Linked DNA regions of Homo sapiens. The protein of the gene in region 4 purifies or fractionates together with the protein of the main gene of each other region. This does not show direct contact. Each region holds a gene or a part of one and is shown on either strand. Other genes may lie near its edges.

Region 1 (4,290 bases), on a different chromosome or scaffold from region 4:
AACCAGCATTTTTTTTTTTTTTTGGATTGTTGAATTAATGTTTGGCACGCATTACTGTGAAGTGCATGATTATACCTACATAATATATCACTACAAACTAGGTTTATGAGTTCTCAAATAAATTCTGGGCCGCATTAACAACTAAGTGACTTGTTAAGAGTAATTCAGGATAATTTTCTTAAATTTGTAAGATATTTGTTGAATGACTGTTTGAAAAGGGCTTATTTTCTCACTGACCACTGGAGATCTTTAAACTTTCAGGTAACACGTTTAAGTCTTAAAAGCATTACTGCTGAAGTTAGGGGATTTAAGCCAAGTCACAAATGTCTGGAAAGTAGAGTTAGAACTTTACAAATTCACACTGAGTTCTCAGTTACATTCGTTTTACCATTTACTATTAGGAATAAAATCAAAGGGCTGTGCTTAACTTCAGTCAGACCTTTGACCTTAAGGGCAGAAGGAAGCAGAGAATTATAGTTCACACATAATAAACACATCTCCAAATTATTAAAAAGGCATTTTATTATAAATACATTTTAGTTGTAGCAGTAAAATACATTTTGTTACCATGAATCTTTGAAAACAAAAGAACTTCACTGAGACAATGAGCACACTGTAGGAACTGTAGACCCCAAGTTGAAAACTTGTTCTATGGAACCAAAGTAGCTAACGTAATTCCAAAACTAAGTTAGAAAAGATAAAGACAAAGAAAGAAGAAAATAAAAACCCTAGAGAGTGGCTTTGGGGTTATTTTATGGTACAAAGTCACTTTTACTTTTAAGGATAAACTCTTTAGGTATTAGAGCCTCTTAGATGAGGTATCATTTACTGCAAAGAAAAAAAATTGTTATAATTTTGCCATAAGTTATGCCTATTTAGATGGCTGTATAACTGGTACTTTGAAGAGATGAACCTGACCACCTCAGTTTTGTACAGCTTCCCTCAGGAAGACTTCCCAAAATAAGACTCAGTATGAATTTGCTAAGTAACTGATCTATGAAGTTAGCTGAACAAGTTTAGATAAGAACTATATGTATGAAGCATTAAAAAAAAATCCTGTGTCACTAATAACAGGACCCTTTAATAAAATGCAAAACTCATTATCTTTATAATTTAGAAGAGAAGTATTTTAATCACCATATTTACCTAGGATACAACTACTACATATAGCCAGTACCTTTATGGGGTTTAAAGAATCAGGTCAGATGACTGGCACAGAAATCAGATACAGTACAATGTCATATACATGGATTTATAGGAAGCAGGCATGGTCTGGATTTATGAAAATCCAGGACCCTTCCTCTGTAAAGGGGGAGGCTGAGAAACATTCTCAGCTGCACTGACACTTTGGGACTTCAACCAGGACAAAGAGCCCTCTGACCTACTGAAAGATATAAAGAGGTCTTCGCATACAAGTTATCGTGCAAAGCAAAGTGTAAATAAACCGAAGCTCCCCTCTAAGTTGGGACTGCATAAAGGAACCCAGGCTGAAAATATAAACAATCCTCTCCAAAGGTGAGCAAGCCTTTTCAGTAGGAAGGACTGTGTCTTAAGAAAACTCCAAAGCTGTATATTCTACGATGGTCTTCACGTGTACTTTTACACCTAAGTCATTCTGTATTCTATTACCATAAAAATAGCTTTTTTTTGTCTTTCTAGTAGCTCAGTAAATTCAAAGGCAAACTAAAAACCAGAAGCAGAGCCCAGTACCCCCCAAGATGCAGTCCAGATAAAACAGCAACAACACACAAATTAAACAATACCCAAAGACCTGACAGGTTTATTATATTATAGGCAGTTTCTTTCTCAAAAATAACTTGCTCATACATGTGCACCTATGACTTATGAATAATTCATGCTGTGTAGGTGGTAGATCCCCCTAGGCTGTTTTGCAAACACATATAGATTTTTTTAAAGGTAGCAAAGTAATCAGAGACATTTATTTTCTGCCATATGTAACACTTCAGGCTCTCTCTAACACCTGCTGGCATGGCAGAGAATCTAAAATAACTTTGTTAACCTGAGAAACACATAATTTGAAAAACAAATCCTTTGCCCTCACCACCCTCCCCCACAAAAAAAAAAAATAATAATAACCATAAAAACTAAAACATTTGCCAGGCGCAGTGGCTCATGCCTGTAATCCCAACACTTTGGGAGCCCGAGGCGGGCAGATCATGAGGTCAAGAGATGGAGACCATCCTGGCCAACACGGTGAAACCCCGTCTCTACTAAAAAATACAAAAATTAGCTGGGCGTGGTGGCGCATGCCTGTAGTCCCAACTACTTGGGAGGCTGAGGCAGGAGAATCACTTGAAGCCGGGAGGCGGAGGTTGCAGTGAGCCGAGATCATGCCACTGTACTCCAGCCAGGGCAACAGAGCGAGACTCTGCCCCGAAGAAAAAAAAACAAAACTATTATTTTATTATTTAAGGATTATCTGTGGTTTTCGATGCTCCATGTCACTGCCATCTTAGGACAGGGACTCCTGCACTTAGTGCCTCGATACATGCTAGGTGCACTCTCATGGCATTCTGATGGCTTCTTTCCAGGATTCTCACTTCCATGCATGTGGATCAAGATTGACCCTAAGCACACCAAACAAATGCACAGCTTCCAGACTGATGTCCAGGCAGCAGCGTACACAAAAGCAAACTCACCCTAAAACCAAAGAGCTCCTTCACCCTACTGCGGAAGAGCAGTGCAGACCCCAGCAGGGGTGAGAGTGAGGAGGGGTGGTGGCCAATCCAAAGGGCCTGTCGCTCCATGGAGACCTTTCTCCACAAATGTTCCAGTCATGGCACCAGATTTATAAAAATGTCTCCAGAGATCAGTTTTTTACACTGAGTAAATAAATACATGGTTGAAAAGACGTTCAGACTCTGAAGGTCTCTGAGACTTTCAAACTGCGAGAATCAGACCCAGTGATTTTCAAAGTGTGGTTCCTGGACTGGCAGCATCAGCATCGCCTGGAAACTTGTTGGAAATGCAAATCATCAGGCTCCAGACCAAAATCAGAAATGCTGGGGGTGGGTCCAGCTATCTGAATTTTAACAAGACCTCGAGGCAATTCTGATACTGGCTGAAGTTTGAGAACCATTGCTCCATCCTGTTCACAATTCTCAAATCTTAAAACAGGACAGATCTGTAAATAGTACTATGTGACTTCTACTCTGTGTTGCAACCTATGTAATTTGCCACCCTTTCCCCTTTACTTCTCAAACATTAAAAAAGTATTAATGAAAACACTTCATAAAATCAAAAATTTCTTAAAAGGTAATATCGATTTCCCCTCCTCTACATAGTTCTAAGGCAGGCAATCACATGCTAGTATGCAAAGTAAAATACAGAAGAGACCTCATATATGAGGTAGAAACAGTTAAAAAGACTCCCCACGAACATAATGAAAATTTCATAATATTGTTTAATGAACTCATAGAATTATATAAAACTTACTATGCTTTATGCTTAATATCTGTATCAAAATAAAATCTCTCTGTTGAACAAATTGCAAATAAAGTCTGGTCTAATACTCTGATAACTGAAACTATATGAATGTCTCTGGGTTTTCTTAACACTCCAGTTTTAGACGCTTTAGACGACCACTGCGGAACTGGGTTTGGTATTTAACCACAGTTCACATTTCTAAGTCTAGATTCTTCTATTAGGTACCTCCCTCCAAAAAATTTTTAGAAACTCTGGTGACTGTTTCCTTAAACTTCACTCCAAAGTAGACATTCTCAATTGGTTCAAAAATTTTAAACGTTACATTAAAATTGTTTTTAAATCTCTTGAATCTCATATTCTAGTTTAAAGTAATAACAGGATGTGTTTAGTAAGATTCACTCCTTGCAACAATGGTCTTGACATTACTGATTAAAAAGGTATGAAAGTAGAAAGTGTGAATTTAGCAGCTTTAAAGTCTCAGCTAATAAATGTCCATCCTCAAGCAGATGGGAAATGTGAGGAGCATATCATAATGAGCATTTTCAAGACTAACATGCCAGTTACTCTTTCAAGATGGAGATGGTGTCTTTGTAAGTGATTGGCACCACTACGTGATATTTTGAACAAGAAATCGTAGATAGAACATTACCTATTCTTTCTAATTTCTAGGCGGTTTGAATGTGGATCAGATGGCAAAGAGTGGAGACAAATCAGATCCATTAAGACATTTATACCTTGAGATTCAGGAAGACATATAGCGCGGCAGTAGAAATTAAGGATTTTCATATGTTAAGGGGATGGTGAGCAAGAAATAATGTACGGTAAATCATAAAAGACAAATTA
Region 2 (6,036 bases), on a different chromosome or scaffold from region 4:
GTGTGGGTATAGGTAAAGGGAAAAAAAGAGGCAAGGAACCAAAGCACTTTGACATACTTTGGTATGTCACTTAATTCTCAAGCTTCCCATTGTTAGAAGATAAACAAGTCTTTCCCACTAAGGAATAAATTATGTTACCCACCACCACCACCACCAAAATTTTGAAGATGCCATTTCACATCATTATAGCGGCCACTTTTTCAGCTCAAAGTTTCTTTCCCTTTTTTTTTTAACTTTTATTTTAGTTTCAGGGGTACAAATGCAAGTTTGTTATATAGGTGAATTACATTTGACCTTCTAGATTATATGTATGTATTACTCTAATAAAAATTTTAAAATTTTTAGAAAAATGCCAAAATTTTAAAGTGATATTTATGAACTTTATAAATATTTTGTAACATAGGAAATATTGTCCAATATAAAGAATTTAGGAAAGACAAATTTTTTCACAATACAATGATTGCAACTACATTAACATGCCTAAGGGTAATGGAAATAAACAACTAAAAGGGATAATGGAAAAATGAAAACAGTTTTACTTGGGTAATGAGATTACAGATGACTGAAAAAATTTTTAACTTTACAATAGTAGCTTAACATCACTTTATTTTACAAAGCTTTTATAACATACACAATAACATTTTAGAATACACACTTCCTTTGGGATTCTATTAGCATTTTATGAAAAATCTAAGAGAGTCTATTAAATAGCATCCTTATTTCCAGCAGTTTATACTCCAATATTATGAAATTCTTTAAGTTCCCTAAATTAAAGCCTTCCATTAAAGGCCAGCCCAGGCACATTTATGAAGTCATCATTGAATGCCTAACTTTGCTTTTAAAAACCTCTTCCTACCCTCATGTCTTATTCTGTTCCCTATATGCCAGAATAACATACCACCATCTAGTTCCTCAGGCAACAACTCTCCTGGGATGCCAACTGTTTCCTGTAGTTTACAACTTGTTTTAAATTGTGAGAATGTCTTCAGTGTGGTTTCCTATTGCGGGAGTCATGTGTGTGCCCTGGATTGTGAAAGTGTCCTCATGGTATGTTTTGGCATTTTATTTCTTTTATGGACCTATAGGGCTTATCAAGATAATGAGAGGGCATGAGATTTTATATTTGTGGTCCAGTCAAGAGAAACCCTTTCCTGCTCCCTCCTTTGTGAATGGAGCCCAATTCCAGCAATCTGTCATGCATATAATCTACAACCTAACCCCCTGTTTATCTCTTCCCCTAGCTATAATTCATGTTGACCAAAAAAACAAAACCAAAACCAAAACCAAAACCAAAGGTTGAGGTACCTTTCATATCCCTTGGACAGGAAGACTTTAAGCTTGATTTAGCCGTTGATTCCTTTTACATTCAGATAACTAGTTTTAATTCTTGCTTTTCACCTGTAACATATATTTCCAAAATAAATATTTTATCTATATTTCCAAGTTTTTGTAACAAAGCAGTTAATTATGTGGGTTATTTTGCCATGAACTTTATGACTGCTTTTGAGCACTTGGTTCCTCATTAGAAAGTAAATTCCCTGGAAACAGGACTTTTCATATTTGTATCATCAGGGCTTAGTGTAGTAACTGGTTTATAACCAGCATTCAGCACACATTTAGAGAAGGAATGCCTGTTTTCAGGTCACTGTGAGAAATGCATATGATTAACTATGGGGTTAATGGCAAGATTAATAAAGCTGGCCTTCAAAGGGCATTTGCATTTTAGAAGGGGCTACCTGTGTGTTTACCTGGGAGTTCTCTGAGCTTTCTCAATGATATTTTTAAGGTAGAATCTCCAAGGCTAACATTACAAACACTATATCTAGTAAGTAGGTGAGAGTTTTTGAGCAGATAAATTCCTCCCAAATTCCCACACCATATTTGGCAACTAACTTTTCTATGTATATGGTAGCTTCCTGGCTTCACCCAGTAACATGTCATCTGATCCCTATGATCACTCTAGTTTTCTAGGGACAATTTTTTTTGAGGGAGGAGTGGTCAAAATGAGTTATAATAAACTGTTAAGATAAAATGAGTATAAGGTCTAGTCTTTCTCATAGGGTAAGTAATGTTTTTATTTGTGGTTGCAGCATTGGTCAGAATGGAGGGCAGAAAGCAGTAAGGAATGAAATATTCTTAGAATCACAACATTATGGACTGTAAGAGATAGGTCAGAACCCAGATCTCACTTTACAGATTAGTTTTACAGATGTCAGTTTAAACAACCACTCAGACAAGGGTAATAATGCATATGCAGTGGGAACACGAAACACATCCTATACACTCAGATTTCCACTCACGGCCATCTGCCTTTACAGTCTAGAAGACTACAGCACCTCTAAATATGTATACTAGTTGTATGTAATTCTTTTCTTGCAGCAGAAATATTTCCATAACTGTATTTCATTTTATTTAGGCTAACACAAAAAAATAGTTTGCATTCACAATATCAAACAAAATCCAGAACTAAATGTATTCTGGATAATAACAAAAAGCTATTATGCAAATAAATTGTCTCATGCTGATAATTCTCAAAATTGTTATTATAAGTATTATACTATTAACTGTATTAACCAAGTAAATTCCTCAAAAGAGCATCCAGGGAACAACAGAGCATGATAATGGGAATCAGTACTAACTTTTAGGGTATGTTATTTACCTCAATAATTGTTCAAAAAGCACTTGTTGACTATGAAAGAAAAGGGAGCTAGGAATAGTAGAGGGAATGGTAAAGATTCTAGAGTCTCCCAGATAGTCTACCACTACATAGCTCTACCATGTAGTGGTAGAGCTGAGATTAATACCCAGGTCTCCTTTCTCCCAGCTCCTTATTCTATCCATTAGAGCAGACAACTTTGCTCTTTTCTGAAGAGGCTTCTCAAAAAGTGTAGAGAAAAAATCATCATAACCTCATGGTTAAATATAAATATTTTCAGAAGCACAAGGTTCATTGTCAAAAATGGAATTAAAGCATCTATTCAATGATCTATCCTCTTGCTCAGCCTGTGGAAAGCATATGGTAAGATTTTCAGCCACATGATTCCAAACTAGACATTTATCACTTCTTACTGGAGTTCTGAAATTACTCCATGCTTTCCTTGAGTTGTGAATTGATCAGTTTTCACTTTGAAAAGTAATTGCTTTTCCCACTGGTGAAGTCAACTCCATTCGCTTCCAATATGAGTGTGGCTCATTGATTCTCTCTTTGTGGCTTTTACATCTATTTCACCGAGGAGGCAGGTATGGCAGTGGGACTTTCAAAAAGGCTTCTGGATGACCAGTGAAGAATCAGTTATATAAAATTGTGGTAGTTAATAACATTTGGGACTCCCAGGTCTCATTTTATTGTCATGACTTTTGAGTACAGGCATTGTTGGACAAATCAGCATATCTATGTGGCATGAAAAAAAAGTCGTAATGATATGACTTCCAATTTATTCCCCACACATCAGCGATGCTGCTTTTTGTTAACAGTAGAGCCTGTGTTCTTTTGTTCTCTGTCTCACCCCTCCTCTGCTTTCTCTTTTCTCCTAATTTTTCCTTCATTCATCCATCCATCCATCCACCCACCCACCTTTATCATCAAGCTTTCTATTCAGCATTGACTAACTTAAGACAAATCTATGGCTTTTAAAAGCAGCAAAAAACTTTCTGAAGGCATATTCATTTTTCCTTTTTTTTAAAAAAATCCTTCCATATATCAAGTACTCCTGAAGCACTAAATGTAGAATGACAAAAGAGACTGCTTTCCTTGTCAAGTTACATCTTTCTAACTGCTTTAAAATGGGTATCTAAACTGTACATCCACTATCCTACCTGGGTCACACAATGGTGCCACTCATACCACACAAAATGTAAGATAGGTGGGTGGGATGGTATCCTTGATTTTATTTAAATACTTTTTTTTTTTAAACACTGCTTTGGGAAGAACTGAATTCTCTTATTTTAAAGATTTTTAAAAGGAGAAGATGCTAGAATAACCTTTATTTTTTGGTTTTTGGGGGGTGTCTGTTAGATTGTTACTAGGCAGGCTGTTGCCCTGGCAACAGGAGCAGCCATAAAAGAGCATTAGGAGCTATCTTGTACATCTTTGACTATAAAAATGCTGAAGAGGCCTGGTTGACATCTGGACTATATACAACTCTATTACAACAAAAACAAATAGTCCTTCAAATTTGGTCTTCACTTTATAGTTTACCAAATATTATTTCATTTGATTCTGACAACACTACTGTTAGCAGGACAGATATTAACTTCATTTTTAAAATATAATTGAGATGGGCAGTCTAAAGAGAGGCAGGCTTCTTTTGTTCTTCTTCCTCCTCCTCTTCCTTCTTGTCAAAGAATATTAACCACAAAAGAAATGATATCCAGTTTGAAAATGAAGGAGAAATTAGGTCTTAATTTAAAAAATTATCATCAAATATGAAGAGAAACATAAACTATCTTCAACAAAACTAGAAGACACTTTAACCTCAACCCCAAAATAGGAGATAGAGCTGCCAGGTGCAGTAAAGGTCAGATAGCTCCATATCGCAGCCAAAGTCATTAGACCAAAATACTCCAAAATAGATGACATAATCTGAGACAGGGAAAAAAAAACAACAACAACTAGTTCCTTCTCTAAAACAATGGAAATGGGATGAGTGTCAGTAGTAGGGGATTTCCTGGATATTGTCTGGTACAGTGGCAGGAGGGGCAAAGCTGAAGAAGAAAATACATGCATATCACATTGACAAGCAGTAGTCTGTAGACGTGGCAGACAGGAGGAAAGAGACTCCAAAGGTGGTAACCCTGTAGTTGCCAATCTTTGTTGACTGGAGAGAGTAAAAGGCTACAACAGCTCTCTCAGACCCACAATCCTGTCATAAGGAGATTCACTGTCACCTTGGTAGGATTGTGTGAGCTTAAAATGCCAACCTACGGCCGGGCATGATGGCTCATGCCTGTAATTCCAGCATTTTGGGAGGCTGAGGCAGGAAGATCATGAGGTCAGGAGTTCGAGACCAGCCTGGCCAACATGGTGAAACCCAGTCTCTACTAAAAATGCAAAAATTAGCCAGGCGTGGTGGCGGGCGCCTGTAATCCCAGCTACTCTGGAGGCTGAGGGAGGAGAATCATTTGAAACTGGAAGGTGGAGGTTGCAGTGAGCTGAGATCATGCCACTGCACTCCAGCCTAGGCAACAAGAGTAAAACTCCATCTCAAAAAAAAAAAGAAAAAGAAAAAGAAAAGCCAACCTACCTAACATATGAAATTGCATTTTAAAAAACAACAAAAACAAAACAAAAACAAACAAAAAAGAAATTGTATCAAATAGATGAGCCAGAAAGAAATTTATCTCATATAAAGGTAAGTAATACTTGAAAATAAACCTGCACAGTGTTCATGCACAAACACTTCAAGAAAAGGAGAAATGGAACAAGCAGAAACAATTAGCAGATAAAAACCACTCAACAGGAAAGAATGAATCAGCTGAGCACATGAAAAATGTGACCAAATATACTGTCATAACTCAAAGAACTTAAGGAAATAGAGTTCATAAAGAAATGTAGTTGATCAGAAACACCATAGCAAAACAACCAAAGGAAATGCAACATAAGCTAACAAAGTTCAGAAAAGAAATGAAAAGGAAAAAATAATCAACCAAAACTGTGCAGTAGAGGAAAAAATACACTAATTGGATATTGTTCACAGCAAGGAGTCAACAGATAGGATCTATATATATATATATATAGACTTTAAAATTAAATATAATTCAAAATCATAGTGAAGGAAAAAACCATTAGCACAACAAGTGAACTATAGCAAATGTGAATAACATAATGCAAGTGTAGTATACAGCATACATTGCTGATTATGTATCCATTATCCATGCCCTCACTATCCAAAATGATGATTTTGGTCATATATCCTTCTTTTCCACAGAATCATGTGCTTTAGGGCAGTGGTTCTTAACTAGGGTCAATTCTTCCCTCACAAAAGACATTTACTAATGTCTGGAGACATTTTTGACTGCCACAGTTTGGAGGCGATG
Region 3 (7,037 bases), on a different chromosome or scaffold from region 4:
GGCACTATCTCGGCTCACTGCAAGCTCCACCTCCCGGGTTCACGCCATTCTCCTGCCTCAGCCTCCTGAGTAGCCGGGACTACAGGCGTCTACCACCGCACCCGGCTAATTTTTTTTATATTTTTTAGTAGAGACAGGGTTTCACCGTGTTAGCCAGGATGGTCTCAATCTCCTGACCTCATGATCCGCCCGCCTCCCAAAGTGCTGGGATTACAGGCGTGAGCCACCGCGCCCAGCCAAAAAGCTCACATCTTAAGAAAATTCAATCTTCCTGTTCAAGCACAGGAACCATCTTCCCATTTCAGTTTCCTTCTAAGGTTCCTCAGTAAAGAACATATTTACATACTGTACATTGATATAAAATCCATACTGGATTTTATTTGAAGAATATTTAGCCCTGAAGTTGATGTGTTATGGGGCTTCGTTCTTAGTTCTCAATATACACTTTTCTATAATGTATAGAACATTGTTTTAAAATCTGTAGATTAAAAATAATCTGCTGCATTGACTTAATTAATTTTGCAAGTTAAATCACTTTAAAACAGTCTATTAGTGTTCTATGAGGGAAATTATGATTGGAAATCAGCTAAAGTTTTGTTTTTGTGTTGCTGTTCATAAAGGGCCCTGTACCCTGACCTCTCTGAGGTTTCCACATCCAGGGTGGTGTGAGGCCTGCGGAGGCGAGAAAGCCAGGTCCCCCTCCTCCCCCGCCAGGAGGGTATGTCCCCATCATCCCCCCACGTCCCACCTCCTCCCAGCCCAGGCCTGGTTACCTCTTTTGCTTGTCCTGCTTGTTCACGTCAGTGTCCCTGAGCATGACGATGAGATCCTTTCTGGGGACTTTACCCCACCAGGCAGCTCTGTGGAGCTTGTCCAGATCTTCTCCACGGACGTGGTACCTGGGCTCCATGAAGGCACTGTCATCGTAGTCTCCCCAAGCGCCCACCTTGCTCTTGCTGCTCCCCCTGCAGCAGGGGAAGCAGTGGCAGCACCACTTGCCCATCTTGTTCCTGAGTGTCTTCATAGCAGAGTCGTCGTGGTCTCCAGAAGCGCCCACGTTGCTCTTGCCACTCCCCCTGCAGCAGGGGAAGCAGTGGCGGCACCACTTGCCCATCTTGCTCCTGAGTGTCTTCATAGCAGAGTCGTCGTGGTCTCCAGAAGTGCCCACGTTGCTCTTGCCGCTCTCCCTGCAGCAGGGGAAGCAACGGCAGCACCACTTGCCCATCTTGCTCCTGAGACCAAATGGCTTCTTCACAGAAGAGGCAGCCGGCATGGAATCAACCTCAACCACCATCTGCTTTTAACAGCCAGGAGAAGCCAGTAGTAGCCAACAGATCGCGTCTACCAACCAGTTTCACCAACTAGCAGGTAACTCCGGGTTTCCAATCTGTTTGAAGAGAAAAGTCAATCCCAGCCAAAACCTGCCAACCCCAGCAGGGGATTCCAGCCCAGCCCACCCCACCCAGGGAAAACCCACACCCACCCGAGGAAAGCCCACGCCCCCCCTGGGCGACCCCACGCCCACCCCAGAAAGGGCCAACCCCCGCCCCCAAGAAAACACCCAGCCCACCCAAGGGAATGCCAAACCCAGCAGAGAAAAGGTCAAGCCCAGCAAAGGAACACGAGAGAGAAAACGTCAATCCAAGCAGGAAACGTCAATCCAAGCTACCAACGCCAAGCCAAGCCAAGAACGCAAAGCCAAGCCAAGCCGCTACAGGCCAGCCAAGCCGTTAAAGCGCGTGCAGCATGCGCGTGCAAGCCATTACAGGCCAGCCAAGCCGTTACGCGCGTGCGGCGTGCGCGTGCAAGCCGTTACAGGCCGGCCAAACCGTTATGCGCGTGCGGCGTGCGCGTGCAAGCCGTTACAAGCCAGCCAAGCTGCTGCCGGGCGTGTGCGCGCGGCGTGCGCGTGCGCGTGCGGCGTGCTTATCTCAGGTGGCGTCAGGGCACGTGGCACAGACACTGGCCGATGCATGCAACGCGCCTGCTTAAGTCTTGGCGCCACGAATGTCACTGACAGCCTTGAGTTCCGGCAAACTTCGTGGGAGTCAGCTGAGCTTTCAAGCCACTGAGAAGCCTCTGGTGAAAAAAAAAAAGCCTCTTAAAGGAGGACTGGGGCTAAGCGTCTGGAACTTGAGGATGCTGACAGCCTCCTTTGAAAAAAGCCCCCAGGACACTCCTGGCGGTGCTGTTGTGCATGGCAGCAGCTGCAGCTGGGAGCTCGGGCTGACGGAGCTGGCTGCAAATGGCCTCAAAATCGCGGAGCACAAGACGCCCACCGAGCCCAGGGCCTGCCTGAGGTGCCTTCAACACCTGCTCCTCTTTGCTCCGCACCCAGAACACGAGGCCATCAGCAAGGGGGCATTTGGGGCCACAGGATTGCAGCCAGCTCCTGCCCCGGTGCAGTGTATACAGTGTATACTGCACAGGTGTTGGGTGCACCAAAATCTCCTGAATCACCTCTAAAGAACTTACTCATATAATCAAACACCACCTTTTCCCCAAAACCCTAGGAAATAAAATGAAGAACTTTTTGTTTATGCATACCACATATTTTTTAACTTTTTTCACAGGTTCATTGAGATACAATTTATATATTATTTAATTCACTCATTTAAAGTATAAAATTCAGTTTTTTAAGTGTATTAACTAGTTAAACAATCACCATGATTTTAGAACATTTTTATGCTCCTTAAAAGAAACTTTGCACCCATTAGCAATCTTTCCCTATTTTCCCCATTCTTCCTTTAAACCTCTCCCAGCCCTAGGCAATCATCCATCTATTACCTAAGAATTTGCCTATTCTGGAAGGATTTGCCTATTCTGGACATTTCATGTAAGTGGAATCATAATAATATAGTTACGTGTGACTTACTACTTTCATTTATCATGTTTTCAATGTTCATCCTTTTTGGAGCATGTATTAATATGTTTTTCTTTTTCATTGCCAAGTAATATTTTATTTTATGGACAGACCACATTTTATTAATCCACTCCAAAATTCATGGACATTTCTGTTGTTTCCTACTTTTTGTTGCTATAAATACTTTTATGTGTAAGGCATTTGTTTTAATTTATTTTTGGTGTATACATAGGAGTGAATTTACTGAGTCATGTGGTAATTCTGTATTTAACCTTTGAAGAACGGCTTCATTTTTCTGCATGTGGCTTGCCAATTATACCAGCAGCATATGTTGAATAGGGTGTCCTTTCCCATTTTCTTGTTTGCTTTGTCAAAGATTAGGTAGTCTGATGCCTCCAGGTTTGTTCTTTTTGCTAAAGATTGCTTTCGTTTTTCAGCATCTTTTGTGGTTCCATTCAGATTTTAGGACTAATTTTTCTATTTCTGTGAAGAATGACATTGGAATTTGACAGCGGTTGCATTTAATCTGTAGAATGCTTTGAGTAGCATTGAAATTTTGACAATATTAATTTTTTCAATTGATATAGGACTTTTTCTATTTGTCACTTTCAATTTCTTTCATCAATGTGCTATAATTTTCAGTATACAAATCGTTCACATCCTTCATTAAAATTACTCCTTGCTCTTTGATTTACTTATATATTTGTTTTGTTGCTATTATAAATGGAATTACCTTATTTTTCAGATAACAGTTTGTCATTGGTGTATAGAAGCCAATGTTAATTTTGTAACTCTCAACTTTATTGAATATAGTGTTTATCAGCTGTAATGGGTTTTTTGTGGAGTCTAAAACACAGACAATCTCACCCCTTCCCTTCCTATTTAGATGCCTTTCCTTTCTTTGCCTTGTATAATTACTCTGGCAAGTCAGTTACATATAACGTTCTCAGCATTTGTAATTTGACATCAAATCCATCTGTTGTAATACACTGATTGTTACTTTTCAACTCGAAAACATGGACATTTATCACTACTCTCCCTTTCTCTTGGTCTAGTTGTTATTTAAAAAAAAACCTATCAATGCAAACCAGGATATTTTTCTACAAAACAATTTCAAACACACTAAAAGGTTTTAATCTAACAATTTTTAAACTTTCTTTGTCAATGACTTTGAACTGTGGTCTCTCGGAACAAATCCAACACCTTTAGTAGAAAAATTATGTTAATTCCTACATTATCATTGGGTCTAGCCAAGAGTTGACCAAAGGTGATATTAACAGATATGCTTATTTATTACCTTGTTCTCAAAGTTCTAGCATAAGTCTTGAAAAATCTAGTAAAAATTTGTAAAGACTATAATTGCACAAACTCCCTCTCTCATGAGTCACACAGTTAATCCAGAATACTATTTCTAAGTTATTGGAAAGCCAACAAGTAAATATGATGTAGTGTATAAAAATAATCCTAATTTCATTGTATATTCTGTAAGTGACATATGCAATTGATACTATTTACTAAATATCTCATAATTATATTTATTTACATAGAAAAAAGGAATAAAAAACATATCTATTATCTAACATTTAAATGATTAAAAATACTTGAGATAGCATTGCTACATAAATGCTATGTAAATGCTGAAGAAAGTAAAAATGTCATTCCCTACATTTGCTAAATATATTGTGACACATTATAAGCATTTTTAAAATATATCACTAATGGTTGGGTCAAGTCAGCAAAAATGATTCTAAGTATTTAATTGTGGAAAAATTTAGTACAGGGGATAGTATTCATGTGATGGAAGGATTTTAAATGGAACCCAGAGATTAGCAGCAGCAGTAAGTTTTAATTGCATACCAGGTGCAGAGTCTAGGATACAAGACAGAACTGCAGATAAAATCTGACTCCTTCCAGCATAGCTAGGAGACATGGCTAACTCCACCTGTCCGGAGACCTTACCTAGAAATCTAACGGCTCCAAACCAGGTAAACAAAACTATTTTCCAAAGTCAAAGCATCAATTTATGACATTAAAGCACTTCTAAAACTTAACCTCTGACTTAAGTTAGACCAAATGGATAAATTTTGAAGATATTTTTATTTTACCACTGACTTTAACACCATCTTTATTTCCCAAAGATTACTGAAGTCACATGAAATAAAAGGCATTAGAGCTTCTATTTTTCTTACAAAATATTTAAGAGCTTTCATTTTCTTTTAAGCCGAGCCATTATATATACATCACATACACAACACTTCTAGACAAGAAAAGATCTAGCAGTTGTTCAGTTTTTCTTTCCCACTTTATGAATCATAACACAACTTCCACAGACTATCTACAACATGATTAAATTTATCTGACCTGTCCTGTATTTCCCTCTTTTGTAATTAGTCATTCTACTTTAGGACAACAATTTGCCATATAAGATCCTCTCTCATATAACATTTCTTTCCTTCATAACATTTCTTACAATAAATACATCTTCATATCCACAATTTTCTTTAGATCTCTCTCCCCTACTAATTTCTGATGCCCATCCAAACCAAAAAGGTCAGACAACGCAAGGCAAAACAGAGCAGAGCCTTAGATTTTTGAGAGGGACCTGTCTGCTTAAAGTTCTTGGGGTTCCATGAGGAAAACAGAGGTTTCTCCTAAAATGGGGTTTGTGGAACCTTCTGTTTTTCCTTAAGGAGTCCCAGGTTGTCAGAAATTACCTTAGATCCTCTCATGTGGGCATCAAGAGTGGCAACAAGAGAGACTGGGGTAATAATTCAGACAACTGAGCAGAAAAAGAAAAACTTACTACTGTCCCCACTGTAATGATGGATAAACTGAGGCACCATGCAGTTCAAAAATTCATGTTCACATAATTAGGATCCACAGCTCACTCTCTTAAATAATTTTGCCACCTCTATGCCCAGTCACTGATGCACCTGTATGGTAGCTCATGGCCCCCTTGGAACTTAGAACCTGGGTTTCATTCCTGCTCTACGGCTATATAATTCAACAATTTTCCTTTGAATTTGTTGGACTCTAACCCTGTATATCTCAAATTTTATTAGTATTACTGAATCTTAAAGGGAGCTGTGACGTCTTTAGTCTTTAGAAATATTAAACCTATAAACAAGGACTATATGAGGTTAAACAGTATTCAAATTTCTATATGCTTTAAAACATGGACACAATGTATTGAGAAACACACCTACAAAACTGCACCCCATCAACTCTGGACAAAAATTTAGATATTATCTCTTCAATATAACCTATCTAGTGGTATTTATACATATTCTTCCATGTATCAACGGTATATTACATGCTCATAACCTTAAAAATAACAAGTGTTCAAATTATAGGCCTTACACATTTCTACGGGCTTGAAAAATGATACAATATAGATTGTCTTTAAAGCAGTCAAGAAAATGCATAAACTTCTAGAGGAATCAGTAAAATAAAGATAAAAAGTTCACACCTAAAGTAGTAATACTAGGAATAAAAGAGGGCTCGACACTGCAGGTTCTTAGATACAAAAGTTAATAAAGCCTTGTTTTTGGTTGTGAATCTTTGCCTTAAAATACACACAGCTGACCGAGGTGGGTGGATCACCTGAGGTCAGGTGTTCTAGGCCAGCCTGGCCAACAGGGTGAAACCCCATCTCTACTAAAAATACAAAAAGTAGCCGGGCGTGGTGGCAGGCACCTATAATCCCAGCTACTCAGGGGGCCAAGGCAGGAGAACTGCTTTCACCCAGGAGGCAGGGGTTGCAGTGAGCCAAGATCGGGCCATCGTACTACAGCCTGGGGGACAAGAGCGAGACTTCATCTCAAAAAAAAAAAAAATTACACACAATTCTCCCGACTTCCTTTTTCTCTTGCAAAGAGGTGGTGATGAACCAGGTTTGCTCAGGCAGATGACAATACTCTTGAAAATGGTGGCAGAGAGCCAGGCGTGGTGGCTCACACCTCCAATCCCAGCACTTTGGGAAGCTGAGACAGGTGGATCACTTGAAGTCGGGAGTTCAAGACCAGCCTGACCAACATAGAGAAAACCCATCTCTATTAAAAACACAAAGTTAGCTGGGCATGGTGGCACATGCCTGCAATCCCAGTTACTCAGGAGGCTGAGGCAGGAGACTTGCTTGAACCCAGGAAGCGGAGGTTGCAGTGAGCCGAGATCG
Region 4 (7,514 bases):
CTAGACCAGGGTTAGCAAACTGTGGACAGTGGGGCACATCAGGCTTCTGGTCTGTTTTTGTAATAAAGATGTCCTGGAAATAGTCACATTCATTTCTGTATTGTTTGTGTCTGCTTTCATGCTACCATGGCACAGTCAAGTCATTACTATCCAAACCATCAAATAACCTAAAATATTCACTCTCTGGCCATTTACAGAATAAGCCTGCTGACCCTCTCCGATAAAACTTCCCATAATCATGGGAATGTTCTATATCTTTGCTGTCCAATATGGTAGCCACTAGCCACATGTGACTATTGAACATTTGAAATGTGGCAAGCAGGCCAAGCATGGTGGCTTACGCCTATAATCCCAGCACTGTGGGAGGTCAAGACAGGAGGATCACTGGAGCTCAGAAGTTCGAGGCAAGCCTGGGCAACATAGTGAGACCCCATCTCTACAACAATGTATAAAAATTAGCTGGGCATGGTGGCGCATGCCTGTAGTCCTAGCTACACAGGAGGCTGAGGTGGGATTATTGCTTGGACCTAGGAGGTCAAGGCTGCAGTAAGCTGAGATCACACCACTGCACTCCAGCCTGGGCAACACAGCAAGACCCTGTCTCAAAAAAAAAAAAAACAAAGAAAAGAAAAGAAAAGAAAAAAGCACTGAGGAAATGAATTGTTAACATTTTTAATGTAAGTAAATTTCAGCTGGGTGCAGTGACTCACACCTGTAATCCCAGCACTTTGAGAGGCCGAGGCAGGTGGATCACCTGAGGTCAGAAGCTCCAGACTGGCCTGGCCAACACAGTGAAACCCTGTCTCTACTAAAAATACAAAATTAGCCGGGCTTGGTGGCGCGTGCCTGTAATCCCAGCTACTTGGGAGGTGAGGTAGGAGAATTGCTTGAACCCGGGTGGCAGAGTTTGCAGTGAGCCAAGATTGTGCCATTGCACTTCAGCCTGGGCAACAAGAGTGAAACTCTGTCTCAATAATAATAGTAATAATAATTTAATTTAATTTTTTTTTTTGAGACAGAGTCTCACTCTGTTGCCCGGGGCTGGAGTGCAGTGGTGCAATCTTGTCTCACTGCAACCTCCAACTCCCAGGTTCAAGGGATTCTCCTGCCTCAGCCTCCTGAGTAGCTGGGATTACAGGCGTGAGCCACCGCACCTGGCCTAATTTAATTAAATTTAAATAGCCACAGCACATCAAGTCCAGCCTTCTGAGCTTCCCTCCACTGGCCTTACAAGATCCCTCACTCCCTTATTGCTTTCAGACCTCAAAGCCCTGTAGTATCATCCTAGGAATCTAGAAATGAGTCTCTCAAAATCTCACTTCGTCAACACAGTGCCTGAAATTCCACCATCAGTGTGCCAACTCCTTGAGTTTAGCATTTCCTTCACCCCCGATTCCAATTTTAAGTTGCAAATAGCCCAGTGAGGGTTACAGATGAAACGGGCAAAACCTCCCCGTGAAGTAGATGGTCCAAGGGCTGCCTGGTCTTTGGAAGCTGAAGTGGACATTGCAAAGGGAGCAATGGTGTCAAGGCTGGATGCCACGCCATTAGAGCTTAGGGTCCAGAGCCCACGGTGGGAATGAGGGCAGCTGCTATTGCTCTTACCTGCCAGGGCCAGCTGTAGGGGACCGCATCCTCACCATGGACAACGCGGCTGGAAGAGTGAGAGGAAGGTGGGCCATAGCCTGAGGCTAGAGGGGAGAGGAGAGCTGTCAATCAGCTGGAGGGTCCCCAAAAGCAAAGAGGAGGCCAGGGTCCCAGTCCAAGCCATGCCTTCAACTGGCTGTGTGACCCCATGCAAGCCCCTTTCGCCCTCTGGACCTCAGTAACCACATATGAACAGTGAACATTTAAACTAGAGCAGGGCTTTCCAGAATCCCAGGAGTCCAGGGATAGAGATTCAAATGTGGCCTCCTTCATTGGGAGGATTGAAGAGCTTGATACACTTAGAACAATGCCTGGCCCTCGATGAGCCCTCAAAAAGTGAGAGCTATTGTCATACAGAGTGGAGGCTTTAAAGAAGGACTTCCTGGGTTCAAAGTGCAGCTCTGGGCTGTGTGTGGTGGTTCACACCTGTAATCCTAGTGCTCTGAGAGGCCGAGGCGGGAGGATCGCTTGAGCCCGGGAGTTTGAGACCAGCCTGGGCAACATAGCAAGACCTCATCTCTAGAAAAATAAAGTACAATAAAATAAAGTAGCCAGGTATGGTGGCATGTGCCTATAATCTCAGCTACTCAGGAGGCTAAGGTGGTAGGATTGCTTGAGGCCAGGATTTTGAGACCAGTCTGGGCAACAAAGCAAGACCCCATCTCTACAAAAAAAAAGCAAAAAATAAAAACATTAAGTGCAGCTCTGCCTTTTGTTCTATGATAAGCTACTTTACTTCCTTGAGGGTCAGTAAAATGGGGGATAATGATAGTACTGATCTCCTGAGGCTGTTGTGAGAATTACATGAGAAAGTATAAGAAAATCCCTAAACATTCTGCCTGGCATAGTAAGCACTCAATCAATGTTATCTGTTACCATTATTGTCAGTCAAGGGAGGCTGTTTGGAAGAGGTGGCCCTGAGCTGGAATGTAATATGGCAGAGAGACCAGGAAAAGGCCAGAGCATAGAATATGGAGCCAGGTAGGGGGAGTGAGAGGAGAGTTGGAGTGGTAAGTAGAACTGTGGAAATTCCAACCCAAGAAGTCCAACCACACAGTCCAAACTCTTAACCGTTTGACTTTGTTTACTGCCCCCATCAAGGACTTCCACCACAGCCCTTTGGGGGTCTTTCACCATCCACAGCTTCCCCTCCACTCTCCTGCTCCATCATAAGCTGAAAGCCCCTACAGTCATGCCCCCGGGTACAAGCTGAGACCCCCTCCTGTGGAACCAGGCATAGCATGTCATGGGACTCAGAGCGAGTGGTAGATTTCAAGGATTCCTAGTCCAGGGCAGCCCAGGGAGCACACAGACAGGTTGGGGTCTTACCAACGGCCACAAGGAGGAGGGAACTGAGCAGCCGGAGCATCATGAGTTTTGTGATGATAGGAAAAGGGCACAGAGCCTGGGGCTCTAATATAGGGCAGAAGGTAAGCAGGGGGGCTGATTGGGCCCCACTCCCAGAACAGGTGGTGGAACTCCAGGTCTCCCATGGTCCAAGGCCACAGTCCTCGCCTGCTGCAGATGGACAAGTGACAGCCAAAGGGAGGACCTAGCGTTCCCTCCAACAGGTGGCTGGACAGGTGGTGTGGAGTGGCCAACTGATAACAAGAGTTCAGGAAGAAAAGCTCATGTCAGGACAAGACCTCCTCTTTCGGAAAGAACAGGGGCACTGGAACCGGGCAGACCACGGTTCAATCCTGGTTCTGCCACCTTCAAGCTCTGCGACTTTGGGCGCATGGCTTAACCTCTCTGAGTCTCAGTTTTCTGCTCTCTAACATGAGATTTATATTAGTACCCACCTCCACAAAAAAATTCTTGTTGAGCACTTTTTCTCTATGTATCAGGCACTGTTCTAGGGGATACAGCTGTGAAAAATGCATGGTCTCAGCCCTTCTAGAGTTTGAGTCTAGGCCAGGAGCGGTGGCTCACACCTGTGATCCCAGCGCTTTGGGAGGCCAAGGTGGGAGGATCACTTGAGGTCAGAAGTTCGAGACATGATGAAACCCTATCTCTACTAAAACTACAAAAATTAGCCAGGTGTGGTGGTGAGCACCTGTAATCCCAGCACCTGTAATCCTAGCTACTGGGAGGCTGAGGGAGGAGAATCACTTGAACCTGGGAGCGGAGAGGCAGAGGCTACAGAGAGCCGAGATCATGCCACTGCACTCCAGCCTGGGCCACAGAGCAACACTGTCTCAAAAAACAAAAACAAAACCAAAAAAAAAAACAGAGAAGAAAAGAAAATGAAACATAGGTGATTGGGGTAGGAATGGGAGTAAGTCATTTAGATGGGGGGGACAGAGAAAGTGACATTTGGGCTGAGGAGGTCATATCTGATGGAGTCCTGAGGATAAGTAAAAGCCAGCCACGGGAATCCCTGAAAGAAACGCGCTCTGAAGGGAGGCGACAGCAGGTGCGAAGTTCTGGAGGCTGCAATGGGCTTGACTTGTTCAAGGAAGGGGAGGCCAGTGTGACAGGAGCTTGGTAGTCAAAGTAGAGAGGGGTGGGAGATGAGGTCAAAGAGCAGGCGACCCCGAAAGTGGAATTCACAGGTGATCCAGCCGTTTCCCTCCTAGGTCTATACCGTGAGAAAACCTTAGGCATGTGCTCCAGGAGGTGTGGATGAGATTGTTTGCCGCAGCCCCTGTTCTCAAAACTCAACAGCAAAGACCTAGAAACAACTCCCACGTCCATCAAGGTTCATAGGTCAATATGTGTAGCATATTCACACAATAGATTTTTTTTTTTATAGTGGTGCGATCTTGGCTCACTGCAACCTCCACCTCACGGGTTCAAGCGATTCTCCTGCCTCAGCCTCCTGAGTAGCTGGGATTACAGGCGCGCACCACCACGCCCGGCTAATTTTTGTATTTTTAGTAGAGACGGGGTTTCACCATGTTGGCCAGGCTGGTCTCCAACTCCTGACCTCTGGTGATCCACCCACCTCGACCTCCCAAAGTACTGGGATTACAGGCATGAGCCACTGCATCCGGCCAGACGGGGCAATTTAAATAGATCCCTCCTGGGGGAAAGTCAGGCATCTTGCTGAGCAGGTTTTGTTTTAGGAGTGAACCCCCTCCAATCACAGCCTAGCCACTCTGATAGCCTGGGTTCGTGGAACGTGTGTGGACACAAGGGAAGCAGCTGTGAAAATCCTTTATACTGTGATAAAAATAGCCATGCCCTCCCCTACCCTCTGTTCCCTATGTGCCCGGACATGTTTGCTCAGCTTGAAAGCTCTGAGCCATTCCCCAGACCCTACGCCAGGGAAGAAGGAGGGAGGGGCCCAGGAGGTGGCTGGGGAGAGATAGGGTTAGGTCCGATAAGCCCAGATTCCACTGTAGAGTGTCTGAAACCCACAGGGCCTAAAACGCGATCTAATCCAACCACTTTTATTTGACAGAAGGGAAAATGATGGGCCAGGCACAGTGGCTCACGCCTGTAATCCCAACACTTTGGGAGGCCGAGGAGGGTGGACCACCTGAGGTCAGGAGTTCGAGACCAGCCTGACCAACATGGAGAAACCCCATCTCTACTAAAAACACAAAATTAGCCGGGTGTGGTGGCACATGCCTGTAATCCCAGCTACTAGGGAGGGTGAGGCAGGAAAATCGCTTGAACCTGGGAGGCGGAGTTTGCGGTGAGCCGAGATCGTGCCATTGCACTCCAGCCTGGGCAATAAGAGCAAAACTCTGTCACAAAAAAAAAAAAAAGAAGAAGAAAATGATGACCCAGAGAAAAGCCAGGACTTGGTCAAGTTTCCCTGGTTTGTTACTGCTTGGCCTGGTGAAGGGTAGCCCACGGACACGGGAGGGTCCACTCTCCCTCCCCCAACTTCAACCGAGAAGCCTTCCCGGCTTCTTACCCAGGTGACCTTGAGCAAGTCCCAGCCTCTCTGTCGGCTCTGCTGGGTCCCCAGGGAGAGGGGCTCCCTGACGCCAACTGTCCCACCACAACCCCTGCCTGATTGGTTACTTCAAGGCCTTATGGACTGACACTGGCAGTTGCACGGCTGATTAACTCTCCGAGGGTTTTCTGGCCTAGGAGTAGCTTGAGTGAAATCCCTGAAGATGAACCTCCTTCCAACACCTGCCCCGCAAGAGGGAAGATGGAGGGGTTAGATCTACTTTAGGCCTCAGCCTGAAGCAAAGCAAGCCATTTCCTGAATGGGAGGTGGAGGTTAGGTCGGAGAGTATGCAAAATTAGGAGGTCAGTCTGGGAAGGAGAGGGAGGGCGGGGAAGCTGGCGAGGGGACGGAGGGGAAGCTGGTGAGCCTTTTTCCCGGGACTGGGGGAGTTCCATTCTTTCCAGTTCCCACCCCACAGGAAGCTCTTTGAGGATCAAAACTTTATCTTATTCATCTTCCGATTCCCAGTACCTAGAAGGGAGCCTGGCACATGGTAGGTTTTCAACAGCATTTATTCAAGGAGACAACAAATGAATGAAGGAAGGGAAAGGACTCTTCAAATGCCCTCCGCTTCCTACCCTGAAAGCACGGTTGAGCCTGATATTCATGCAGGATGCACCTGGAGGGTGTCCCCTCTGTGTGGCCTGGAAAAGCGCAGCAGCATCTGGATGGTGTCCTGATGGGCACATTCTAGAGATATTAATAGATGTTTGATGATAAATGGACCCACTAGAACGGAGCCCCCATGGGGCGGGGGGTTTTGTGTGCTTTGTTCACTGCTGTGGCCTCGGCTCCCAGAATATAACCCAGTGGGCACTCAGTGAAGAACTAAAGGTCAGATGGGATTGGAAAATATGAGCTCAAACAAAGTTCAAATTGTCCTTTCCTACAGGACTTCTCAGAGCCTTTAATATGCCAGTGTTCACGGTGAATCACACACAGTGGTCCTAAGTCCGGGACTCTGGTGCCTTGTTGCCCTGTAGTTTCTGTGAAAATAAGATATTCAAAATCTAAGCTGTTGGAACTTTAAAATACCTTAGACTTAAGGGAATGAGATTATGGGACCTGAGTAATGTAAACAGGAAGGCATAACTTTTGTTTGTGTTATCGATTAGCTTTTCCTTAACTACATTGTTTTATAAAATGTTGTAAATGACTAAAGGGTGACAGGGCAGACTGTTTCCCTCTCAACAGTCAATCTTCATTATAGATTAACTTCCTTCTTTTCTCTCTCACACAAAGACTTCATGACTATCACATTATCTAAGATAGAATGTTAAATACACAAATTGGAAAGGAAAATAAAACAAAGTGTATGGAAAAGAAGACAAATTTTAACTAGCTATATTGTTGTAACTCATAAACCAGCCTGGTATAGAAATGTTATAGTCCTACTAAATTTGTTTCCTGCCTGTATGAGCAAGATCATAATTTTTTTTTTTTTTTGGAGACGAAGTCTCACTCTTGTCCCCCAGGCTGGAGTGCAATGGCTAGATCTCGGCTCACTGCCACCTTCGCCTCCCGGGTTCAAGTGATTCTTCTGCCCTCAGCCTCCCAGGTAGCTGGGATTACAGGCACCTGCCACCACACCAGGCTAATTTTTGGATTTTTAGTAGAGGCAGGGTTTCACCACATTGGCCAGGCTGTTCTCAAACTCCTAACCTCAGGTGATCCACCCACCTTGGCCTCCCAAAGTGTGGGATTACAGTCGTGAGCCACCACGCCCAGCATTTTTTTTTTTTTTTGAGACGAGTCTTGCTCTTGTCTTGCTCTTTTTTTTTTTTTTGAGATGAGTCGTGCCAGACTGGAGTGCAATGGCACGATCTCAGCTCACTGCAACCTCTGCCTCCCAGGTTAAAGCAATTCTCCTGCCTCAGCCTCCCAAGTAGCTGGGGTTACAGGCATGTACCACCACGCCCGGCTAATTTTTTGTATTTTTAGTAGAGATGGGGTCTCA

The links.
Region 1: the proteins of CELA3A (region 4) and HELZ purify together in Homo sapiens (affinity purification with mass spectrometry; 2 studies listed by BioGRID and IntAct, with this or other methods). This does not show direct contact.
Region 2: the proteins of CELA3A (region 4) and PPIP5K2 purify together in Homo sapiens (affinity purification with mass spectrometry; 2 studies listed by BioGRID and IntAct, with this or other methods). This does not show direct contact.
Region 3: the proteins of CELA3A (region 4) and POTEF purify together in Homo sapiens (affinity purification with mass spectrometry; 2 studies listed by BioGRID and IntAct, with this or other methods). This does not show direct contact.

The regions. Positions count from the first base shown.
Region 1 is NC_000017.11:67,069,940-67,074,229, forward strand, and holds the end of HELZ (probable helicase with zinc finger domain), read right to left. Parts: 3' UTR 505-4,290; downstream 1-504. UniProt on the Homo sapiens protein: May act as a helicase that plays a role in RNA metabolism in multiple tissues and organs within the developing embryo.
Region 2 is NC_000005.10:103,207,277-103,213,312, reverse strand, and holds the end of PPIP5K2 (inositol hexakisphosphate and diphosphoinositol-pentakisphosphate kinase 2), read right to left. Parts: 3' UTR 514-6,036; downstream 1-513. UniProt on the Homo sapiens protein: Bifunctional inositol kinase that acts in concert with the IP6K kinases IP6K1, IP6K2 and IP6K3 to synthesize the diphosphate group-containing inositol pyrophosphates diphosphoinositol pentakisphosphate, PP-InsP5, and bis-diphosphoinositol tetrakisphosphate, (PP)2-InsP4.
Region 3 is NC_000002.12:130,119,222-130,126,258, forward strand, and holds part of POTEF (POTE ankyrin domain family member F), read right to left. Parts: intron 2,078-7,037; exon of another isoform or gene 1,388-2,077; 5' UTR 1,295-1,387; coding exon 774-1,294; intron 1-773.
Region 4 is NC_000001.11:21,997,180-22,004,693, reverse strand, and holds the start of CELA3A (chymotrypsin-like elastase family member 3A preproprotein), read right to left. Parts: upstream 3,038-7,514; 5' UTR 3,020-3,037; coding exon 2,977-3,019; intron 1,692-2,976; coding exon 1,606-1,691; intron 1-1,605. UniProt on the Homo sapiens protein: Efficient protease with alanine specificity but only little elastolytic activity.